Linked DNA regions of Homo sapiens. The protein of the gene in region 2 purifies or fractionates together with the protein of the main gene of each other region. This does not show direct contact. Each region holds a gene or a part of one and is shown on either strand. Other genes may lie near its edges.

Evidence for each region.
Region 1: the proteins of ANKRD49 (region 2) and CMSS1 purify together in Homo sapiens (affinity purification with mass spectrometry; one large-scale study listed by BioGRID and IntAct). This does not show direct contact.
Region 3: the proteins of ANKRD49 (region 2) and ROCK2 purify together in Homo sapiens (affinity purification with mass spectrometry; one large-scale study listed by BioGRID and IntAct). This does not show direct contact.
Region 4: the proteins of ANKRD49 (region 2) and BCL7B purify together in Homo sapiens (affinity purification with mass spectrometry; one large-scale study listed by BioGRID and IntAct). This does not show direct contact.
Region 5: the proteins of ANKRD49 (region 2) and PUS7 purify together in Homo sapiens (affinity purification with mass spectrometry; one large-scale study listed by BioGRID and IntAct). This does not show direct contact.
Region 6: the proteins of ANKRD49 (region 2) and ROCK1 purify together in Homo sapiens (affinity purification with mass spectrometry; one large-scale study listed by BioGRID and IntAct). This does not show direct contact.
Region 7: the proteins of ANKRD49 (region 2) and SBNO1 purify together in Homo sapiens (affinity purification with mass spectrometry; one large-scale study listed by BioGRID and IntAct). This does not show direct contact.

Annotation. Positions count from the first base shown.
Region 1 is NC_000003.12:100,177,862-100,180,046, forward strand, and holds part of CMSS1 (protein CMSS1), read left to right. Parts: intron 1-443; coding exon 444-527; 3' UTR 528-2,185.
Region 2 is NC_000011.10:94,496,984-94,500,078, reverse strand, and holds the end of ANKRD49 (ankyrin repeat domain-containing protein 49), read right to left. Parts: intron 2,009-3,095; coding exon 1,547-2,008; 3' UTR 501-1,546; downstream 1-500. UniProt on the Homo sapiens protein: Induces HBG1 expression. May have a role in spermatogenesis where it promotes autophagy in response to serum starvation, via the NF-kappaB pathway.
Region 3 is NC_000002.12:11,334,637-11,338,136, reverse strand, and holds part of ROCK2 (rho-associated protein kinase 2), read left to right. Parts: intron 1-3,500. UniProt on the Homo sapiens protein: Protein kinase which is a key regulator of actin cytoskeleton and cell polarity.
Region 4 is NC_000007.14:73,547,691-73,551,190, reverse strand, and holds part of BCL7B (B-cell CLL/lymphoma 7 protein family member B), read left to right. Parts: intron 1-3,500. UniProt on the Homo sapiens protein: Positive regulator of apoptosis. Plays a role in the Wnt signaling pathway, negatively regulating the expression of Wnt signaling components CTNNB1 and HMGA1.
Region 5 is NC_000007.14:105,456,272-105,459,771, forward strand, and holds the end of PUS7 (pseudouridylate synthase 7 homolog), read right to left. Parts: intron 2,989-3,500; coding exon 2,897-2,988; intron 1,656-2,896; coding exon 1,519-1,655; 3' UTR 232-1,518; downstream 1-231. UniProt on the Homo sapiens protein: Pseudouridylate synthase that catalyzes pseudouridylation of RNAs.
Region 6 is NC_000018.10:20,947,814-20,951,313, forward strand, and holds part of ROCK1 (rho-associated protein kinase 1), read right to left. Parts: 3' UTR 1-3,500. UniProt on the Homo sapiens protein: Protein kinase which is a key regulator of the actin cytoskeleton and cell polarity.
Region 7 is NC_000012.12:123,323,348-123,326,847, forward strand, and holds part of SBNO1 (protein strawberry notch homolog 1), read right to left. Parts: intron 2,988-3,500; coding exon 2,805-2,987; intron 2,253-2,804; coding exon 2,155-2,252; intron 485-2,154; coding exon 333-484; intron 1-332. UniProt on the Homo sapiens protein: Plays a crucial role in the regulation of neural stem cells (NSCs) proliferation. Enhances the phosphorylation of GSK3B through the PI3K-Akt signaling pathway, thereby upregulating the Wnt/beta-catenin signaling pathway and promoting the proliferation of NSCs.

The DNA.
Region 1 (2,185 bases), on a different chromosome or scaffold from region 2:
TAATCCCAGCACTTTGAGAGGCCAAGGCAGGTGGATCACTTGAGGCCAAGAGTTCAAGACCAGACTGGCCAACATGGCAAAACCCTGTCTCTACTAAAAATACAAAAATTAGCCAGGTATCATGGCACACACCTCTAATCCTAGCTACTCAGAAGGCTGAAGCATGAGAATCACTTGAACCTGGGAAGCAGAGATAGCAGTTAGCCGAGATCACGCCACTGCACTCCAGCATGGGCAACAGAATGGGACTCTGTCTCAAAATAATAATAATAATAATTTTAAAAATTTCAACTCTGAATCAAATGTGTGTTAGGACTTTTGCACTCTCTGATTCTGGCCATAACAGCTGGGTAAATATCAGGGAGTCCTGATGGTTGAATGTATTCACCAAGACCATTTTGGCTTGATCTTAATCTTTTTTTCCCCCCTTTTCTCTCATTTAGATAAGAAAGGAGGTATTCGAACTTCTGGAAATGGGAGTGCTCAGTCTGTGCAAGTCAGAATCCTTGAAACTGGGCCTTTTCTAAGTCTGTGTCCTAATGAAGATTCCAGTTTTCACAGTAGAAGTTGCATCTTATTTAATGACTCTGATACATTGCAAGCACTCAGTAAATATCAGCAAATAGTTTATGTTAATTGTGTCAACAGATGGATCACTGGAATGTGGGGATTCTGAAACAGAAATGAAACTGTCCTTTTGACAACTCTCTTATATAATAAAGTATCACCGGCTTGTGTATGATCCTTGTTGAGCGGACCGTGTTTTTCTGTCACCAACTGGCTTCTGATGTAACTGTGCAGGAGAAAGGAAAGAGCAGCTGGGTGACCTTAGGCAAGCGTAAGGTCTTGCCTCTCTGAGCCCCATCTTATCAACTCAAAGTGGGAATGTCTCACAGCATTGTTGAGGATTCCAGGAGATAGTACATGGGGAGCAGATTTGTAAACTCTGAGGCATGGTCCCAGCAAAAAGGGTGGCAGGTATATTAATCCATTCTCACATTGCTATAAAGAACTACCCGAGACTGGGTAGATTATAAAGAAAAGAGGTTTAATTGACTCACAGTTTCACAGGCTGTACAGGAGGCATGGCTGAGAGGCCTCAGGAAACTTGGCAGAAGGTGAAGGGGAAGCAAGCACATCTTCACATGGCGACAAGAGAGCAAGAGAGTGAAGGGAGAAATGCCACACACTTTTAAACGACTAGATCTTGTGAGAACTCACTCCCTATCATGAGAACAGCAGAACAGCAAGGGGAAAATCTGTCCCTATGATCCAGTCACCTTCCACCAGGTCCCTCCCCCAACATTGGGAATTATAATTCAACATAAGATTCGGGTGGAGACACAGAGCCAAACCATGTCAATTCCACCCCGGCCTCTTCCAAATTTCATGTTCTTCTCACATTTCAAAACACAATCATGCCTTCTCAACAGTCCCCCAAAGTCTTAACTCATTCCAGCATTAACTGAAAAGTCCAACTCCAAAGTCTGATCTGAGACAAGGCAACTTCCTTCCACCTATGAGCCTGTAAAATAAAAAACAAGTTAGTCATTTCCAAGATACAATGGAGGTACAGGCATTGGGTAAATGCTCCCATTCCAAGTGGGAGAAACTGGCCCAAAGGAGCTAAAGGCCTCATGCCAGTTTGAAACCCAGCAGGGCACTCTTTGAATCTTAAAGCTCCAAAATAATCTTTGACTCCATGTCTCACATCCAGGCCACTCTGATGCAAGGAGTGGGCTCCCAAGGCCTTAGGCAGCTCTGCCCCTGTGGCTCTGCAGGGTACAGTCCCCATGGTTGCTTTCACAGGCTGGTGTTGAGTGCCTACAGCATATCCAGGTACACAGTGTAAGCTGTCAGTGGATCTACCATTCTGGGGTCTGGAGGATGATGGCTCTCTTCTCACAGCTCCACTAGGCAGTGCCCCAGTGGGGACTCTGTGTAGGGTCTCCAACCCCACATTTCCCCTCTGCACTGCCCTAGTAGAGGCTCTCCATGAGGGCTTCACCCCTGTAGCAGACTTCTGCCTGGACATCCAGGCGTTTCCATACATCCTCTGAAATTGAGGCAGAGGCTCCCAAACCTCAGCTCTTGCCTTCTGCACACCCATAAGCCCAACAGCACGTGGAAGCTGCCAAGGCTTGGGGCTTGCACCCTCTGAAGCAATGGTTCAGCTGTACCTTGG
Region 2 (3,095 bases):
TAACTTAGGCCAGATTAAACAGAAAGCAACCTCTGCCACAAAGCATCTCCCTAGGAAGAGATCACAACATAAACTAAAGCACTAACTCTCAAGATCCTGTTGTCACGATGATTCAGTTCATATATTATCTCTGACTTTTCTGAGATGATCTAATAAGTTCTAAGCAAAAATAAATATTTAATCTTTGATTAAATAACATTATTACTTAGTCTAGGGTGACTGGGTTACGTAGGATGGCTTGAAAGAGATAAGCCTTGGTGGACATCTTAAAAATTTAACTGAAGTAAAGAGCAACTGGTTTAGTTCCCTTCCCCTGGAGTGTTGTGGTGTTGAGAAGACAAAACTTTGGGAACAATCACAGGGGGGCTAGATAGACAATGCAAAATTGCTGCTGGAGAGACTGAGTGAGTAGATGTTAAATAACTAAGTGCGTGCTGGATGAATAATGTTCTGGATCCAAGAAAGACATACACAGGTAAAAAATGAATTCATGCCTTTTGTGTTGTTCAAAACTTGTACTTTATTTTTCTCAAATATTTTTACTTATGCTTTTTGTCATTATCCACAGTGTTTTTTTTTTAAAGCCTGAGCCACTTTGTGGTTTTAGCCTCAATATAATAATCATCCCCTTACTCTTAGACTAATTCCTTTTCCCCTGTCACTTTGCCTGTATACTCTGTAAAAATGAGGACCTTAGAAAATCAACATTTCCTGTGAACTTGAGAGACTATACAAGCAGTGCCCAAATCAGTAGGATTAGGCAGGTAAAACCAGTTGGATAGCAGATATATTATGATCTGTTGGACAAAGGTATAGTTGTGTGCATGTCTACAAGGTCATCGTGATTCGCCATTAGCTTAAGGATCATGTAGGTTGACCAGGGTGAGGTAGGACTATCCACAGGATTGTGTAAATTGTGGTAGGGGATGCAGTATACAATATTCATGAATTAAACACTTAGCTAACTGCTTTCCTGAAAATGGTCTGTGTTCTAAAAGACAAAGATCTAGGTTTTTTGCTGTTTTTTACTTTAACTTATGAAGATTCAAGTCACTAATATGTTACTTGCTCTGGTTTAAAATGAAAGCAACTGGCTATGGTAAGGTAGAGAAGACAGCTGAATTGTATCAGAATATTTAAGACTTTTAAATTAAGTTCTGAGTTACCTCACCTTATAAAAATATATGTCAATATACTAAATACCCAACAAAGATCCAGGATGTGGGATATTTAAAAATACATTTCTCTTGTATCAGCACCAAAAATACCAGTTTCTGTACAACCCGTGTCAAGTTTTTAAGTATACACACATTAAAATTATTTCTGATAAAAAAATCACAAACTCCACAGAAATAATTAAAGATATATGCAAATTACTTTCAAATACATTTTGACATCAAAGTCAGGCAATTCACTTGGAAGAATGTTATAATGAATGTCACTGAATTTTTGTAGTAAGATGTTTGACGTCAACTTTGATTATGGGAATACATCTCACACACAGGAGGCACTGGTATTTAGAAACTTAGGAAAATTACTAGAATTGTTAAGACTGAGGTGAAGAATTTGTACAGCCTTCCACAATTTCAAAGAGGTAGTGATAGATACTTGTCCTCCTGGCAATATCAAATGCAGTTTCTTCCAAGTTGTTTTTCAGCCCTGGTTTGACGTAACGGTTCATCAGGAGGAGTTCTAGGGTATCCTTGCTGTCTCTGTTCCCAGCAGCAAGATGCAAGGGGGTCAAGAGGCCTTTTGTTTGGGCATTGATATCTGCATCATGCTGCAGTAAGAAAGAAGCCACTCTGGTATTATTCCACTTACAAGCACTGTGCAGGGGCGTCCAGCCATCCACAGTCACTGCATGAACATCGGCCCCCTGTGCAATGAGCTCCTGAACAATATCTAAGTGTCCACTGTAGGCTGCTCGATGAAGAGGGGTATACTCATCTTCATCCCTAGTGTTCACGTGAGTGGCCTTTTCAGAAAGGAGTCTCCGCACTGTGGTAAGCTGAGAAGAAAAAAAAGAAATCTTTCAACTCAACTCAAACCAAAACAATAACTAAAACAAAATTGTCTTGTGGTGTTAGATTTAATTAAGTTGAATAAAAACTTACTTGTTAGTAGATGACTTTAAAATGAAAATAATTTAAGATCTCTTTTTGGGGAGGAGAGGACTACTGATTTAAGAATGAACAAGTTAGTGTTAACTACACTTTGTTGCTTCTAAGAATGAGATTCTCTGAATATCAAACCATACATTTACTCCTGGTCCAACTAAGGTTTATTGCATAAAAGCTTCAGTCCAATGAATAACATAGGCTTTCTGTTTAATATTTTATGTGTTATCTGTGAAGAAAACATAACTGCTTGATTTTTCTGTAGGATTATCACACCAATATACACACTGTATGAAACTTTTAAAAATAAAACTTTTAACAGAAGAATAAAGTATTAATAAGGAATTCTAGGGATTCAAGAGCTCAATTCCTTCTCAATACAACCTTAGAAACAACCTTTTAGGTTGTAATTTTCAGTTTGTTCTATGGGCCTCTGGTTAAATGTGGCATGCTCTTGGGTTAAAAAGCTATTTAAAATGCGAGACCCTTTTAGTTATTAGTTTACTAACACAGACATGGGGAAACTTAGTAAAATGAGGTGGAAGTGGCCAAGCAGAGGGAATAGGCTTTTGATGTTCATTCCACTTCGATGATCCTGGGCAAATTAATATTCCTGAATCTCAATTTCTTACTCTATAAAAGAGAAGAATATTACTTATAGGGATACATGATGATTAAATAAAATAATGTAATAAGGTACCTGGTATAGTTAGTTTTTAATAAATGTTAGTTTCCATCCTCTCTTTCCTAAATGATCCTAATGACTTTATATAAATGATTTTAAAATATAGATGATTGCTTGCTATCTTTATAGATAATTATCCTTAAACCCCCAAATAATACCTAGCATGACACTTTGCAGCTTAATATGTGCTTTCATGTACATTGTCTCATTTGGTCCTCACAATCAAGAGATAGGTATGATGGCCATAACAGTAAAGGCAGGTCTTCTGGCTTGAACCCAGTGCTTTTCCTACT
Region 3 (3,500 bases), on a different chromosome or scaffold from region 2:
CCTGGCCTCAAGTGATCCTCCAGCCTCAGCCCCTGAAAACGTTGGATTAGAGGCCTGAGCCACTGCACCCAGCCTACTTTGGCTCTTAATACAGTTGTTATGAAAGTTTTCATTTCTTTTGGGTAAATTAAATACCTTGTAGTGGAATTGCTAACTCATAGGGCAGATATGTGTTTACTTTTTAAGAAACTGATGGCCAGGCATGGTGGCTCATGCCTGTAATCTCAGCACTTTGGGAGGCTGAGGTGGGTGGATCATTTGAGGTCAGGAGTTCGAGACCAGCCTGATCAACATGGTGAAACCCCATCTCTACTAAAAATTAAAAGAAAAAAAAAATTAGCCAGGCGTGGTGGCACGCACCTGTAATCCCAGCTGCTTGGGAGGCTGAGGCAAGAGAATCACCTGAACCCAGGAGGTGGGAGGTTGCAGTGAGCTGAGACTGGGTCATTGCACTCCAGCCTGGGCAACAAGAGTGAGACTCTGTCTCAAAAAAAAAAAAAGAAACTGCCAGATCTTTTTATGAAGTAGTTATACCATTTTATACTCCCACCAACAGTATATGAGAGTTCCAGTTGCTCCACATCTTCCCCGACACTGCTCTTTAAAATGTGATTTCGATTTGCATGATTTGCATTTCCCTCATGATGAATGATGTACTTTTTCTTGCACTTACGGGCCATTTATATATTTTCCTTTGTGAAGCATCTGTTTGAAGCAACATACCTCCATTTTTGCCCATTAAAAAACATTGGGTCATTTATTTGTATTTATTATTGAATCTTAGAAGTTCTTTTGTATATAAAGAGAACACTCTTTGTCAAATAAATGTTTTGTGAATGTTTTTTCCTAGCTTATGGTGTATCTCTCTCTCTGTCTCTTTTTTTTTTTTTCTGAGGTAGAGTCTTGCTGAGTTGCCCAGGCTGGAGTGCAGTGGCACAATCTCGGTTCACTGTAACCTCCACCTCATGGGTTTAAGTGATTCTCCCTCCTCAGCCTCCTGATTAGTTAGGATTACAGGCATGCACCACCACACCCGGCTAATTATTGTATTTTTATAGTAGAGACAGGGTTTCACCATGTTGGCCAGGCTGGTCTCCAACTCCTGACCTCAAGTGATCCACCCGCCTTGGCCTCCCAAAGTGCTGGGATTACAGGCACAAGCCGCCATGCCTGGCCCCATATCTCTTTTTTTAATAAAAATTTTTAATGGTTGTTGCTTTTCTGCCCAAGTAATTGTCGCCATCCTCATGTCGTGAAGATATTCTCCTTTGCTTTTTTCCAAAAGCTTTATGGTTGACTTTTACATTTAGGTCTAGGATACATTTTAAGCTAAATTTAATGTGTGGTGTGAGTTAGGGGTTGAAGTTAATTTTTTTTCTCCACATAATTATCCAGTTATCCAGACTATCCTGCACCATTTTAAAAAAATTAAGTTTTCTCATTGGATTGCTTTGGCACCTTTGTTAAAAGTCAGTTTACTGACAGTTGGACTTTTAAATTTGCTTTTCTACCACCTTAGTAGCTACACCGGATCATCAGTCCTGGTTCTATTGTTTAACCCATGCTCAATTCAAAAGTCATTTCTTGGCTGGGCACAGTGGTTCATGCCTGTAATACCAGTGCTTTGGGAGGCTGAGTTGGGAGGATTGCTTGAGGCTAGAAGTTTGAGACCAGCCTGGGCAACATGGTGAGATTTGTCGCCTCTACAGAAATAAAAAAATTAGCCAGGCATGGTGGCACAAACTTGTGATCCTAGCTGCCCAGGAGGCTGAGGCAGGAGGATGGCTTGAGTCCAGGAGTTTGAGACTGAGTGAGCTGTGATGGTGCTGCTGCACTTTAGCCTGGGTGATAGAATGAGACCCTGTCTCTGGAAAAAAAGTCATTTCTTTTTAGTTTTATCTGTACCTGAGGGAAGTGACAACCAACTATGGCTGAGAGGGAAACATAGATTTTATTTTTTAAAGTGAAGAAAGATTTGTCATTTTTTAAATTATAAAAATAATATGCTCTCGTTGTAGAAAATTTAGGGAGCATAGAAGGGTATAAATGCTAATAGCACTTATCTACAATCTCCTTCCTTAGAGATAATCACTGTTTAAATTAACATTTTGGTTTATATATCTTAACTTATATGTATTTAAAAATTACAGTATTCATGTGCTTTATCTTTTTAAATATTTAATGAATAGTATGAGTTTTATATAGTCACAATTATCAATCGTTTCACTGTAAAGTGATTTCTGGCTTAGTGGTCATGTTTAGGAAATTCTCTGTTACCAGGATTATATCATCATATACCTGACTTTTTGTTCTCACATGGCTTTATTTTTATTGATATTTTCATTTCATTTGGAATTCTGATGGAAAGTATGAAGTAGGAGTTCAAAGATTATATCAGGAGATTGAGATTTGTCTAGGTATTAAATTTCCCAAAATATTAATTGGGAGTTTCTGTTTACATCTCTTTATTATACTTTCTATTTGGAGAGTGGTGATTGGGGTGAGAAAAAAGGTTTAATGATTAAGGTCTAATGATTATAGGTTAGGTCTCTATTTGGGCCTCTTGAATTTCTTCATGAAAATACTATACAACTATACTTAAAACTCTAATTTGTTAGTGATAAGGATTACTGGTGGAGAGAATGTGGATGACTCAGTGCAACTTACAGCTTTTAAAAATAATAAAAGAACATTTTCCCTTGGTGGACTAGCATATGGAGCTTACTGTTTAATAAATTGATGTGAAATCATGGTGCATTTGGGGCTCAACTAAAACTATACTCACTTTATCCTTAATTGGAGTCATTTTTCTTTCCTCTCATCTGTACTCCTGCCCCCCTTTAAAGTATTATTAAATTATATAGATATTCTTGTAAATTCTGCAGTTAGGTTTTCTAAATGACCCTCACATATCTTTTCAAAAAGCATTTGGGTCACAATACTTAGCATTTCTCTCATTCCCCGCCTTCCCCTTCCGTGTGTGTGTCTGTGTGTGTGTGTGTGTGTGTGTGTGTGTGTGTGTGTGTGTATCAGTCAAAGGGAACTATTTGGATTCATTTTTAGTTCATTGTCAATAATATTTTGGGGAATGTTTCTAAGTCCAGGAATGATTTTATGGTTTGGTACTTCATTTTGGTAAGGTATGGGCTGTTTGTTCAGATATCTAAAGTGCTTTATAATTTTTTTTTGTCATAGGTGATTGACCACTTATATTCAATGTCTGAATTCCTTTATTCTCTAAAAGAGTTTCACCTCAGATTTCTTTAGTTATAAAGCAAGTGATAGACATTTTATTTTCAAGGGATTATAGACTTGGAACAATTTCTAATGTTTAATTATTGAGGTTTCTATGCCATGGAAATGAATTAGCGAAGTGTTCTCTAGCAGTACTTTATTTAGATAGAAACGCGCCAGAGCAGGGCTGGTATTGTCTTAATTACCTGCATGATTGTGTTGACAAATGCTTAATATGCTAAGCATTGCCTTCATATATGCTTCTT
Region 4 (3,500 bases), on a different chromosome or scaffold from region 2:
ACCTAAAATATTTATCATCTGACCCTTTAAGAAAAAGTTTGCTGATACTTGCTCTTATGCGATTAGTCCCCCACTGTATTGTGTGTATCATATGTATATACATCTTTCTAATTCTGGTGTAGACCTTTGTGCTTCATCTTTGTTGGATGTATTTGGATACCTGTATATTCTTTAAAAATACATAGCATTGTTTCATATGTGTATTTTTGTGTTTAAACAAAACTTAAATATGTGGGCCGGGCGTGGTGGCTCACGCCTGTAATCCCAGCACTTTGGGAGGCCGAGACGGGCGGATCACGAGGTCAGGAGATCGAGACCATCCTGGCTAACATGGTGAAACCCCGTCTCTACTAAAAGTACAAAAAATTAGCCGGGCATGGTGGTGGGCGCCTGTAGTCCCAGCTACTCGGGAGGCTGAGGCAGGAGAATGGTGTGAACCCAGGAGGCGGAGCTTGCAGTGAGCCGAGATCGCACCACTGCACTCCAGCCTGGGCGACAGAGTGAGACTCCATCTCAAAAAAACCAAACAAACAAACAAAAAAAAAACAAAAAAAAAATATGTACAGTATTTTGCCAGAACCTCTTTGTATTCTCTGTGGTTCAACTTTGGTTTTTTAATTTGGGGTTTTTTGCTTTTTTGTTTTTTTGAGACGGACTCTCGCTCTGTCGCCAGGCTGGAGTGCAATGGTGCAATTTCAGCTCACTACAACCTCTGCCTCCCAGGTTCAAGCAATTCTCCTGCCTCAGCCTCCTGAGCAGCTGGGATTACAGGCGCCTGCCACCACGCCTGGCTAATTTTTCTATTTTAAGTAGAGACGGGTTTCACCATGTTGGCCAGGTTGGTCCCAAACTCCTGACCTCAAGTAATCCGCCTGCCTTGGCCTCCCAAAGTGCTGGGATGACAGGCATGAACCACCGTGCCTGGCCCAACCTTGTTTTGAGAACCCTCCATGTATCTGTAAATATAAATAGAATTATTACCTTTGACTCATGCATTGCATTTTCTTATTTGCAGTGAGTACCTTTATCTACATATTTTCTGGGTGATAAATACCCAGATTGTTTCCAACTTTATTTTTTCTAATTGTTTTTTAAATTTTCAAATATAAAACACATACAGAGAAGTATATAAAACATAAATGTACAGTGTATGAATAAATATAAAGCTAACACTCTTGTGAGAACCACTCTGCAAAACACAGCTTTGCCAAGACCCCAGCAGACCTCTCTGCAGCTCTTCCCATCCTCTTCCTCCTGTCCCTCTAAAGGTAATGACTCTCCTACTTTTGCTTTTCTTACCACTTGTCTAGTCATTCATAAACAGTTTTTCCTTTATTATTATTTTTGAGATTTTTTTTCCAGAGACAAAATCTCACTATGTCACCGAAGCTGGAGTGCAGTGTCATGATCTCAGCTCACTGGAGCCTTGACCTCCCAGGCTCAAGCAATCCTCCCACCTCAGCCTCCTGAGAAGCTGGGACCACAGGCATATGCCATCATGCCCAGCTAATTTTTTTTCTTTCTTTTTTTTGTTTGTTTTGGAGAGATGGGAGTTTGCTATGTCAACCTAGGCTGATAGGTCTCAAATTCCTGGGATCAAATGATCTTCCCACCTCGGCCTCCCAAAGTGGTGGGATTTTAGGCATGAGCCATCGTACCCACGCTTTTTCCTTTTTTAGAGATGGTGGGGGGTCTCATTGTTGCCCAGGCTGGATTTGAACTTTTGGGCTCAAGGGATCTTATCTCAGCCTCCCAAATAGCTGGGATTACAGGCATGTGCCACTGCACCAGCCTCTAACATTTTGAGTGTTATGGAAACAGCATGATAAAGTATCTATTTTCGTGTGTCTTGTTTCTTTTGCTCAGCATTATGTTTGTAAAATGCATCCATGTTGTCCTTGGAGTTACCCATTCCTTTCCATTGCTCTCTCTGCTGTATTTTGCTGCATATTCATCACATGGCTAAGTGTAGTTTATTTTTCTGGTTCTCCTGTAGATATTGAGGTTGTCCACAGTTAGGGCCAATAGGAACAATGCCCCTGTGAGCATTCTTGTTCAGAATCCACATCAACATGTACATGAGTTTTCCTAGGATATATTCTTGGAAGGGAAGTGGCTGGGTCTTAGGGTATGTATGTTTTGACCTATATTAGCTGATGCTAAACTATTTGCTGAAATGGTAGTTGTACCAATTTATATTCCCACCAGAAACAGGAGTTTTGTTTTTTGGAGTTTTTTTTGTTTGTTTGTTTGTTTTTTTGAGACGGAATTTCGCTTCTCTTGACTAGGCTGGAGTGCAGTGGCGCAATCTCGGCTCACTGCAGCCTCTGCCTCCTGGTTTCAAGCGATTCTCCTGCCTCAGCCTCCCAAGTAGCTGGGATTACAGGCATGCGCCACCACATCTGGCTAATTTTGTATTTTTAGTAGAGACTAGGGTTCTCCATGTTGGTCAGGCTGGTCTTCAACTCCCGATCTCAGGTGATCCGCCCGCCTCGGCTTGCCAAAGTGTTGGGATTACAGGCGTGAGCCACTGTGCCCGGCCTGCTCCTTTTTTTATTATTATTATTATTTTGTAAGACACGGTTTCAATCTGTCGCCCAGGCTGGAATGCAGTGATGTAATCTCGGTTTACTTCTACTTTTGTCTCCTGGGCTCCAGTGATCCTCCCACCTCAGCCTCCTGAGTAGCTGGGACTACAGTCACATGCCACCACATCCAGCTAATTTTTGTTGTTGTTGTTTCCTTATTTTGTTTTGTTTTTTCGAGACAGAGTCTCACTCTGTTGCTCAGTCTGGAGTACAGTGGTGCGATCTAAGCTCACTGCAACCTCTGCCTCCCGGGTTCAAGCAATTCTCCTGCCTCAGCCTCCAGAGTAGTTGGGATTACAGGCACACACCACCAGGCCCGGCTAATTTCTGTATTTTTAGTAGAGACAGGGTTTTACCATGTTGGCCAGGATGGTCTTGATCTCCTGAGCTCGTGTTCTGCCCACCTCCGCCTTCCGAAGTGCTGGGATTACAGGCGTGAGCCACTGCGCCCAGGCTCGCCTAAAATTTCATGCACCTACATTTTTTTTTTTGAGACAGGGTGTCACTCTGAGGCTGGAGTGCAGTGACGTAATCTTGGCTCACTGCAGCCTCCGCCTCCTGGGTGCAAGCAGTTCTGGTGCCTAGCCTCCCAGTAGCTGAAACTACAGGTGCATGCTGCCACACCCAGCCTAATTTTTGTATTTTTTGGTAGAGACGGGGTTTCATGATGTTGGCCAGGCTGGTGTTGAACTCCTGACCTCAAGTGATTTGCCCATCTAGGCCTCCCAAAGTGCTGGGGTAACAGGTGTGAACCACTGTGCTCAGCCTCATGCACCGACTTCTTACTGTTTTCTCCTACATTTGTTTTTCTTTTTGCTAGAATACATCCTTCAAGAGTTTTGTCAAAGAGAGCTTCTGTGGGGAAAACTTTCTGAAAATATCTTTGTTTCACTTTCATGTTGAAAATTGATG
Region 5 (3,500 bases), on a different chromosome or scaffold from region 2:
AGCTCTTTTCCATTCCTTTCTTTTCTACTCCATAAAGCACATTGGAAGGTGAGTGAGTGATTCCAATAACCTGGAGTCCAGTCCAACACAGTCAATTATTCGTAGCATTTGACTCAGATTATCCTCATACTTCACAGCTGATCACAACACATTTTGGTGTCACCACCATTTCTGATGAGGATCCCACATTCATTTAGTTCCTTACCTTTAGTCAAGGTCAAGATTCTTATCTGCACTCATTTTGATATATTTATTTGATTTATTTACATAACCAGTAGAAAGGAGATTTTAAAAATATTTATTACATTTGTTTCTAGAAATCATAGAAAATAAAAATTGATACAATTTTGATATACAACTTTAGAAAGGCATATTTATCCTTTCACACCAGAGAAGTTTATGCAATGCCAGACATGGAAATACCAAAGCCACTGGTGACAAAGGGTAAACGCTACTGATAGAAGAAAGCCTTGTCCATTTTTATAGTTTTCTTCTCTACCATTATTTATTTTTGAGCAAATACCAGTCCAGTGGAAAGAGTTCTGAACATAAAAGGCACCTAGAGTAAAAATTAGACCTTAACTAATAAAACAGCTGTACACGTTTACATCAAGAAAAAAAAACCCGGCCAGCACAGCTCATGCCTGTAATCCCAGGAGTTAGCCTCGGCAACATGGCCAAACCCCCGTCTCTACAAAAAAATACAAAAATCAGCTAGGCGTGGTGGTGCGCGCCTGTACTCCCAGCTACTTAGGAGGCTGAGGTGGGAGAGTCACTGGAGCCTGGGAGGTCGAGGCTGCAGTGCAAGATTGAGAATTGCAGGATTGCACTGCAATCCAGCCTGTGCTACAGAGTGAGATCCTGTCTCGAAAAAAAAAATAAAAAAATAAAATGGGCCTATCAATGCAACGTTCCTGCAAGGCATTGATAATATAAATGCAAAAGCCACCGCAACCAAAAAGTCTATAATGCTTGCCTGAATCTAGTACATAAGCAGGATAATGACAATCACTTTTTGTTTATAAATTTGTAGATGTCTTATTATTTCAGTCAGCATGAGTACTGTATTTATATTTGTGGGTGGCAGCTCTCAAATTATTTATCCATAGTCCAGATTTGTTTTGTTGCATTTGCTCTTAAAATGCATTGTTGTATACTCCATCACAGATGTGTCAAATACTCCTGCTGTCTTTTGAGAATGTAGCAAAACCTAAACCTGCTACTTTAAACCAAAGTCCTTTTTTTATTATTGTAAAGCTGACATTTTACTCTGATTTAAGCACCTGAAGTGTATTTTGACTAATTTATATTCTGAGCTAAAATTAAGAACCTCAGGATTTGTGTACATGTACAAATATTGCAAATTATTTCTTTAAGCTAATAAAAACTTAAAAATACAAATAATTTTTATTACAAAGATTTGAAATCCATATATGAGTCTGAACTAAGACAAAAATGCACAGGGAGCCAGGAAGCAAACACTTGTGTACGTTTTCTAATCTGTGGACAAGGTACTGCTCAGCGAAGCCAGGTTGTATTCAGCTGCGTCTGGTTCTTGATACTGGTATCCATTTTTAGCACTTCTCGAATGGCCATGGTGGCGTAAGTAGAAGGGGGTAGAGAAAAATCCATTTTCAGAGCCCTGTATTTGCCTTCTGCAAGGCAAGAAAGAAAACAGTCAGAAAATGAAGGCAGCTGCAGACAGACCAGCGAGAGTCACATAATCTCTAAGCAAATACAAAGAACTGTGCTGCTTTCCTTAGACTCCACTTCCTAGGGGGCCTTGGAGAATGAGACCATGGAAGTAAGAGATCTGTGAGTGTGAACCTGCTGAATGGTTACAGAAATTCTGCCCAGGAACTTTCACAAAAAGGCAGATGACAGAAGAACACAAAAGAGAAACGCATGTAAAGTTAAAGAAATAATAATAAATTACGGCCTGGGAAAAAACAGAACAAGAATTTGATGATGAGAATGCCAATTTAATTAATTAATTAATTTTTTTTTGAGACAGAGTCTTGTTATGTTGCCCAGACTGGAGTGCAGTGGTGTAATCTCAGCTCACTGCAGCCTCCACCTCCCGGGTTGAAGCGATTCTCCTGCCTCAGCCTCCTGAGTAGCTGGGATTACAGGTGCCCACCACCACGCCCGCCTAATTTTTTTTTTTGTATTTTCAGTAGAGACGGGGTTTTGTCATGTTGGCCAGGCTGGTCTGGAACTCCTGACCTCAAGTGATCCACTTGTCTCGGTCTCCCAAACTGCTGGGATTACAGGTGTGAGCCACCACGCCCAGCCACCAATTTTTTTTTTTTTTTTTTTGAGATGGAGTCTCGTTTTGTCACCCAGGCTGGAGTGCAGTGGCGTGATCTTGGCTCACTACAAGCTCCGCCTTCTGTGTTCACACCATTCTCCTGCCTCAGCCTCTCCAAGTAGCTGGGACTACAGGAACCCGCCACCACACCCGGCTAATTTTTTGTATTTTTAGTAGAGACGGGGTTTCACCGTGGTCTCGATCTCCTGACCTCGTGATCCGCCCGCCTCGGCCTCCCAAAGTGCTGGGATTACAAGCGTGAGCCACCGCACCTGCCCAACCAATTTAATTTTTTAGACTCTTCCTGAATTTTCACTCACCTTTGGTAAGTCTCTGTGGGGGATGGGGAGAAATACTCCATCACCTAATATCACAACCATCTATAACATGCACTTATTTTCAGGAGGATTTACTGGTTTTAATCACTAACTTTCAGCCATAATTGTGAAAGTAAGGTCATAAAACACAACAATGAAATCATGGGTGGTGGTAGTGCTTGTAAGAGCAGTTTTCAAAAAAAAATTATGTTTTTGTTTAACAAAACATTTCAAAGTCAACACAGAGCTGATGACTGAGTAAACTTACCAGAAGCAAAAACTGGTGGTGTCTTCCCTTCTAGGTTGTCCACATCTGTGTTGAAAAGTGGAATTTTGGGATCATCATATGCAACGACTTCCCTTCAAAACATATGAATAAAGATAAGTGTGAATGTGAACTTTCATAAAAGGTACTAAGCCACTCATCATCATTTATTTAGCAAGAAAAACAAGTAAGTTTACTGTAAATAATTATAGTTAGGAATCTTGAATAATATAGCAGGGCCAGATTTTATACCTAAGTTTTGCTTATATATATAATTTTTTTTTTTTTTTGAGATGGAGTCTCAACTCTGTCACCTAGGCTGGAGTGCAGTGGTGTGATCTTGGCTCACTGCAACCTCTGCCTCCTGGGTTCAATCAATTCTCCTGCCTCAGTCTCACAAGTAGCTGGGACTATAGGTGTCTGCCACCATGCCTGGCTAATTTTTGTATTTTTAGTAGAGATGGGGTTTCACTATGTTGGCCAGGGAGGTCTCAAACTCCTGACCTCAGGTGATCCACCCGCCACAGTCTCCCCAACTGCTGGGATTATAACGTGAGCCACTGTGCCTGAATATAATAGGCTCAATCCAATTATATTCTATTAGTTA
Region 6 (3,500 bases), on a different chromosome or scaffold from region 2:
ATATGGGAATGCAACCAGGCGCGGTGGCTCATGCCTGTAATCCCAGCACTTTGGGAGGCCAAGGTGGGTGTGGATCACCTGAGGTCAGGAGTTCAAGACCAGGCTGGCCAACATGGTGAAACCCTGTCTCTACTAAAAATACAAAAATTAGCTGGGCATGGTGGTGGGCACCTGTAATCCCAGCTACTCGGGAGTCTGAGGCAGGAGGATCACTTGAACCTGGGAGGCGGAGGTTGCAGTGAGCCGAGATCGCGCCACTGCACTCCAGCCTGGGCAACAAGAGCGAAACTTCGTTTCAAAACAAAAATAAAAAATTATATGGAAATGCAAAAGGCCAAGAATAGCCAAGCCAATTGGGAGGGATTACAAAGTTGGACTTCTACTACAGATATAAAATCTTATTATAAAGTTACAGTAATTAAAAGTGTGATATTGGCAAGGACACAGAAATAACACCAATGGATTGTTCACCTGAATTACGATGCAGGAAAGAAGTATTTTCAATGAATACTGCAGTATCAACTGAATATCCATATGGGAGAAATACTGCTTGATCTCTACCTCACTCTGAATTCCAGATTGATTATAGAACTGTGAAAGTTAACTATGAATTACAAACTCAAGTAACTATGAGTTTGTCATTTAAGTTCTTTTACTTATTTTTTTTACTTTAAATGAAGGGTGAATGGGTTAATTTAAGCTGAAACCCCAAATGACAGGTCATGAGTGAACCTGTGAATAATGACAGTGGCTATGTTTTCTTTGTTGCCCAAAGCTGGAGTTCCTGATCTCAGAGAAGCTTACAGGTGTGGGTGCATGGGCTAACTCAATGCTGAACCTTCATTCCACACTCCTAGTGTGTCCTCCTGTAACAAATTAGAGAGAAAGCTAGAGGCTATATTTCTCAGACTTTCTTGCAGCTAGGGGTCTGGATGTGATTTAATTTTGGCCACGTAGATGCACCTAGAGAAGGCAGACGTGAGATGCAGGCTGTGCTAAATGCCAGCAAGCAGGGTCATGGAAGTGCCTTTTCTGAGGCAGTGTGCAGACATGAGGTTCTTAAGTGGCAAGAGGAATGGTACAAAACATCTAACTGGAGGTAGATTGTAGCAAGCCTGACAAGTGTTGCAGAGAACCAGCAGTGGTAGTGTGGATTCCTGATTATGGCACTATCTGGACCCTCTCAATATTGGTATACTTGGGAGTGAGTGGTTTCCTGAACTTAGAAGAGGAAGCAGCTCTCCTGGTTGACCCAGTTCTGTAATGTGGCATTGGGAGTGATTCCTCAAAGCTCTCTCAGTTCTCAACAATTCTAAGTTCAGATTAGTATGTCATTTGGAAAGTCTTCTCTTGCTTAAACTAATTAGAATTAACTCTGTTCTCTGCAACTGGACCTTAAAATATTAGGTAATGGTGATGAGTCTGAGAAGGTAGTAAGGACACCGTCAGGAACTGTGCTGAGATTTTATCCTGTTTGCATGCTGCCAGTCACAGTTTCATGGATCCTGACAAAAGAGATGAGACCCCTGGGTCAGAGTCAGATGACTTCATTCACAGCACAGCAAAAGCAGCATAAGTTTCACGTTCCATCAGTTCCCTTTGCCCTCCAAGCCCCATGTGGGCAATGCAGAGTGGCCCAGGTGGGTGCTGAGCACACAGTGGGTTTGCATCATAGGTGGGAGACGTTATCTTTATTATACTGGACAGTAAAAGAACCCGACATCCTCACAAGGGAGAACTCTATCTTCCAAGGCTGTTTACTACATAAATATCCTTGGAAAAGATAGTCAAAAGAAAGGTTGTCAGAGCCTCTGCTTCCCTGATGTGTAGAAATGCAAGAGACCCATGGAGAATTGTTTTCCAACACACTTTAGCCAGCTTTTCATGTGAACTATTCCCACTCTTGTTTTAGAGCCCAAGACCACGTTTTATCTTTTAAAAATACACTTTAATCTAACCATGGAATTTCACAAACATTTATATACAATCAGAGACTAATTTGAAGTATGTTTTCCATTCATTTCAGCCATGAGAAAACACATTGCAGTAAAAATTAAAGATACCCATCCATAAATTACTTTTATTTCTCATTAAATGAGCACAGAGTCATTAGTATATTAATAACAGATATGTTTATTATTACATATCCATCAGTGCGGCTTTCAATACCACTTGAAACATGCATATCATCCTAGAGACGATCGGTTTTCCAGTGCTTCTTATCTGATACACATTACTGCAAAGCCATTATAAATTACTGAGGAGGTATTTGGTTAAAAAAATAAACAATAAATCATACTGTCCATATGAATCAACTCTTGTTACTGGACAAGAGTTTAACAGTATTTATCTGGTAATTCCTATGTTAACTGGAAAACATCATGGATGTATTGCCATATTTCCTTTTTATGTTGGTGCAACCTTCTACATTTTTTGCAGTTTTATAAAGTCATTATTGTAGCAGGTAGTTTGATGCAAAGATTGTACTCAATTTATGAAAGTCCAACAAACCTCTAAATATTTTAAATTAAACCAATTATCAATGAAAAACTCACTGACACACATAATTTTTTGAAAATACATTTTTTGAAATTTCTATACTTACTCATGGCAGTAAAATAATTATCTCAAATTAAGGCACTAAAAGGACAATGCAACCCCCATTGAAAGTGTTCTAAGAATAATTTACATTTCAAACAGTGCATACATTTCTTATATGTTTGTTAACTTAATGTCTTTATCATTTAAAACCACAAAGAAATACATTATACAATTATAGAAATGATGTACCCCACAAAATGCTTTTAAACTTGGTTCTTTTGTACAGTTAGTTTCCTAATGTCTCTAGTAGTAAAATAACTCAATATGGCTTGGCAAAAATGCATAGATTAAATGTAACTTTTTTTTGTCCTCTCCCATTCCCCAAACTTGCTGAAACATATACAGTATTTTGTAAAGCATAATGAAAGATATTTAATTTCTCCATCAAGTCCAACATGGGCAATCAACAGTAAGGCTTTTAAATTCTACAGTGAGGGCACTGAAGTTCAAGTGATATCACTGCTTTCTTAAAATAGTTTTGTATAGTCTTGCAAGAGCACAAAAACTTAAGTCATTAAAAAAAAAACAAAACTTCAGTTTGTCTCATTTTGAGATATTTTCTTTACTCCTTCCATGAGCTGATCTTGATAGTGATGGCTGTTCCACTTGAAAGTGAAAGTCCCTTCCTCTTACTCATATGAGGAAAACTCTGTTCTATCACGACTGACAGGCATTTTCTTATAAATCCAAAAAGGCAGCACCTTTTAAAAAAAATATATCTACCTAAGCTTTCCCCCAACTGTACTTGCATTACATAGTAATAATTAATCTAATCTACCTGTAGGCAAACCCGCAATAAAAAAAACCCTCAGTGTGTTGTGCCAAAGCAAGGACAGAAAAACAGCAATCTTAACCCTGAAGCCTGTGATATTTGTGTCAAAGAAACAGCCTGTCTGCTC
Region 7 (3,500 bases), on a different chromosome or scaffold from region 2:
ATTTTCTTTTTTCTTTTTCTTTTTTGAGACAGAGTCTCGCTCTGTCATCCAGGCTGGAGTGCAGCAGCGCTATCTCGGCTCACTGCAAGCTCTGCCTCCTGGGTTCACGACATTCTCCTGCCTCAGCCTCCCGAGTAGCTGGGACTATAGGTGCCCACCACGATGCCCGGCTAATTTTTTGTATTTTCAGTAGAGATGGGGTTTCACCGTGTTAGCCAGGATGGTCTCGATCTCCTGACCTCGTGATCTGCCCACCTCAGCCTCCCAAAGTGCTGGGATTACAGGTGTGAGCCACCGCACCTGGCCTATTTTTTCTTTTTTAAAGTGCTCACCTTTCCGCTTCTTTATTTTATTTTCTTTACAAGGACTATCTCTTGGCGAACTGTTGTTACTTGGAGCTGTCAAATCGATTCCTAGTAAACTATAAAGTTTTTTCCTGTCTGGAGCAGGAAAATGTTTTTCAATGAGTGACTGCAACACACCTCTGTAGGAGAGAAACAGTGACAATTACTGCTTCAGTTGACAAAATAATTATATGTAAAGTATTATTAAATATATTGAAATATACTTTGTTCAGTTTTACAAAATACTGATAAACGAGCTCAAATAAATTTTAATTTTCTAGCCCAAAGCTGTCCAACTAAATAATAAGAATGCAAGCCAAACCACATACACAATTATTGTATTTTCTGGTAGCTTAAATTAAAAAAGTAAAAAATAAATAAAACTGGTGGAACTAATTTTAATAATACATTTTAACTCAATATACCATGTCAACACATATGTTTTATGTTATTTTCTCTTAAGGAGTCTTTGAAACCTGGCTCAGTACACATATAATAACATCTCAATATGGACCAGTCATTTCAACTGCTCAATAGCCACATGTGACAAGCGGCTGCCATTCTGGACACGGTAGTTCTAGGCAATTATGTACAGAAAAATATAGATTAGCAGGTGTATGTCTTGCTTTTTTCTTTTTTTTTTTTTTTTTGAGACCGAGTCTCTCTGTCACCCAGGCTGGAGTGCAATGGTGCCATCTCAGCTCACTGCAACCTCCGCCGCCTGGGTTCAAGCAATTCTCCTGCCTCAGCCTCTCCAGTAGCTGGGATTACAGGTGCCCGCCACCACGCCTGGCTAGTTTTTGTATTTTTAGTAGAGACGAGGTTTCACCGTGTTGGCCAGGCTGGTCTCAAACTCCTGAGCTCTCGTGATCCACCAGACTCAGCCTCCCAAAGTGCCTGGATTACAGGCGTGAGCCCCATGTATTGCTTTTGAAAGGAGCATCTGAATGCATCCCGAGGCACAAAATAGTAGAGCAGCAAGTTTATTTTGCTCAGTTTACTACCAGAGTTTGAATGTGGAGGTTAGGCAAACTAAAAACAATGCCTAAAACATTTTAAAATCTATTTCTGAAGATCTCATGCTTATTTTCAACTTTTAAAGTAGACTTTATTTTATTTTATTTTTTTTTGAGACAGGGTCTCACTCTGCCGCCCAGAGGGGAGTGGAGTGGAGTGGTGCGATCTTGGCTCACTGCAACCTCCACCTCACGGGTTCAATGGATTCTCCTGCCTCAGCCTCCCAGGTAGGTGGGACTACAGGACGTGTGCCACCATGCCCAACTAATTTTTTTTATTTTTAGTTGAGATGGGGTTTCACCATTTTGGCCAGGCTGGTCTCAAACTACTGACCTCAAGTGATGTGCCCATGTTGGCCTCCCAAAGTGCTGAGATTACAGCTGTGAGCCACCATGCTCAGCCAACTTATAAAGTAGACTTCGTTATATTAGGACAAACTATAGTTACTGTTCCTGTGGATAACGGTAATTTCAAATACAGTACACTAAAACTGAATCTAAGCCAAGCTGTCACAGATTTCCAAGATGTACAAGATAAACAAAGTCTAGCCCTTCTGTTAGTTCACATACTCTGTGTAATATTAGCAAAATGCTTAACATTTTAGGATTATGAGATTTCTGTTATTGTTTTCCAATAGATACACTGTTACAGAAAAGCAGAAAACTCAGATCAAGAAAACTTAAAGATGATGCAGGTGAAACAAAAGTTTTGTCTCCAGGAAATGCCCACATTGGAACTAAGGTAAGGAAGAACTCAAAAAGAAACAAAAACATTAAAAGAACAAAAACATTACTTGGCAGTTGAAACAAAATCATTCAATTCTCCCCCGCCCTCTTCCAAAGCTTCTAATGTTCTAGCTTCTCCTGTAGACTGCAGACCAATTACAACACACTGGAGAAAAAAGAAAACATGTTAATTATGAATAATAATGTTTGTGGCTTCTTACCAAGACATATTTTAAACATTTAGCTAAACAAAGATTTCAAACAAGAATGTCCTCATTATTATAAAACACAAATTTGTTTTACTTATTTCTTCTACATATTTGAGACAGGTTATTTGTCAAAAATTTAGGCAGGAGATAGGATTACAGACAGTAGTAAGCATGAGTGAAGCCCCTGCCCTTGTACAGTTTATAGTATCTTATGCTTTAAGTAGATAAATATTCACCGAAAAGAAAAAACCTTAACGCAATACACATCCATATGTTACCAGTGCTACCAGCTATGGATGACCAATTATAGTGATGTTTACTTTGTTATACTTTTCTGAACTCTCTAAATTCTCTAAGCAGGCATTGCTTTTATAATTTTAAGAAATGTATTTTTTAGAAGTTTTACTATCCTTTAGGAAAACCAGATTTTACAAGCAGAAAACCTCAGCACCCACAAAGACTAAACAACATAACCCCCAAACAATCTCTTAATGAGTTCTTCTACTTACTTTTCCATTCTTGATTTCCTCTCGAGCTAGTTGCACAACCCTTTTAACTTTGGATGCTATGCATAAGTATTTGAAGAACCTCTGGTGAGCAGACCAGAACTGACCCCACATGGACTTCTTCATTCGTTGCTCAGCATCAATCAGATCTGCAGCTTGCTGAAACCGCTCTCTGGCGATGACCCACTGAAGATACATAATCAACATTTCAGACACTTCATCTTTGAGTCTAGTTATTTAAAAATACCAATTAAATCAAAACAATGTTAAGTGCAAGACCATTTAATATTAATTTAATAAATCATCTTTAGTAACTTGGGAATCTATTTCTCAGGATACTCACACAGTTGTCTCAAGTTTCTTATTACCTAATGCAGTCATTTTAGAAAATAATGTGATTTTAAGAACTATGCAACTGAAATAAATGGCTATAACTTATGAATTACCTTAACAAAATGAAAACATGGACAATCTGAAATATAAGAACATTGGTTAGGCCAGGCGCAGTGGCTGATGCCTGTAATCCCAGCACTTTGGGAGGCTGAGGCAGGTGGATTGCTTGAGCCCAGGAGTTCCAGATCAGGCTGGGCAACACTGTAAAACCTCATCTCTACCAAAAAATACAAAAATCAGCCAGGCACATTGACATGCGCCTGCAGTCCCTGATACTCAGGAGGCAGAGTCTGGAGGACTCCTTGA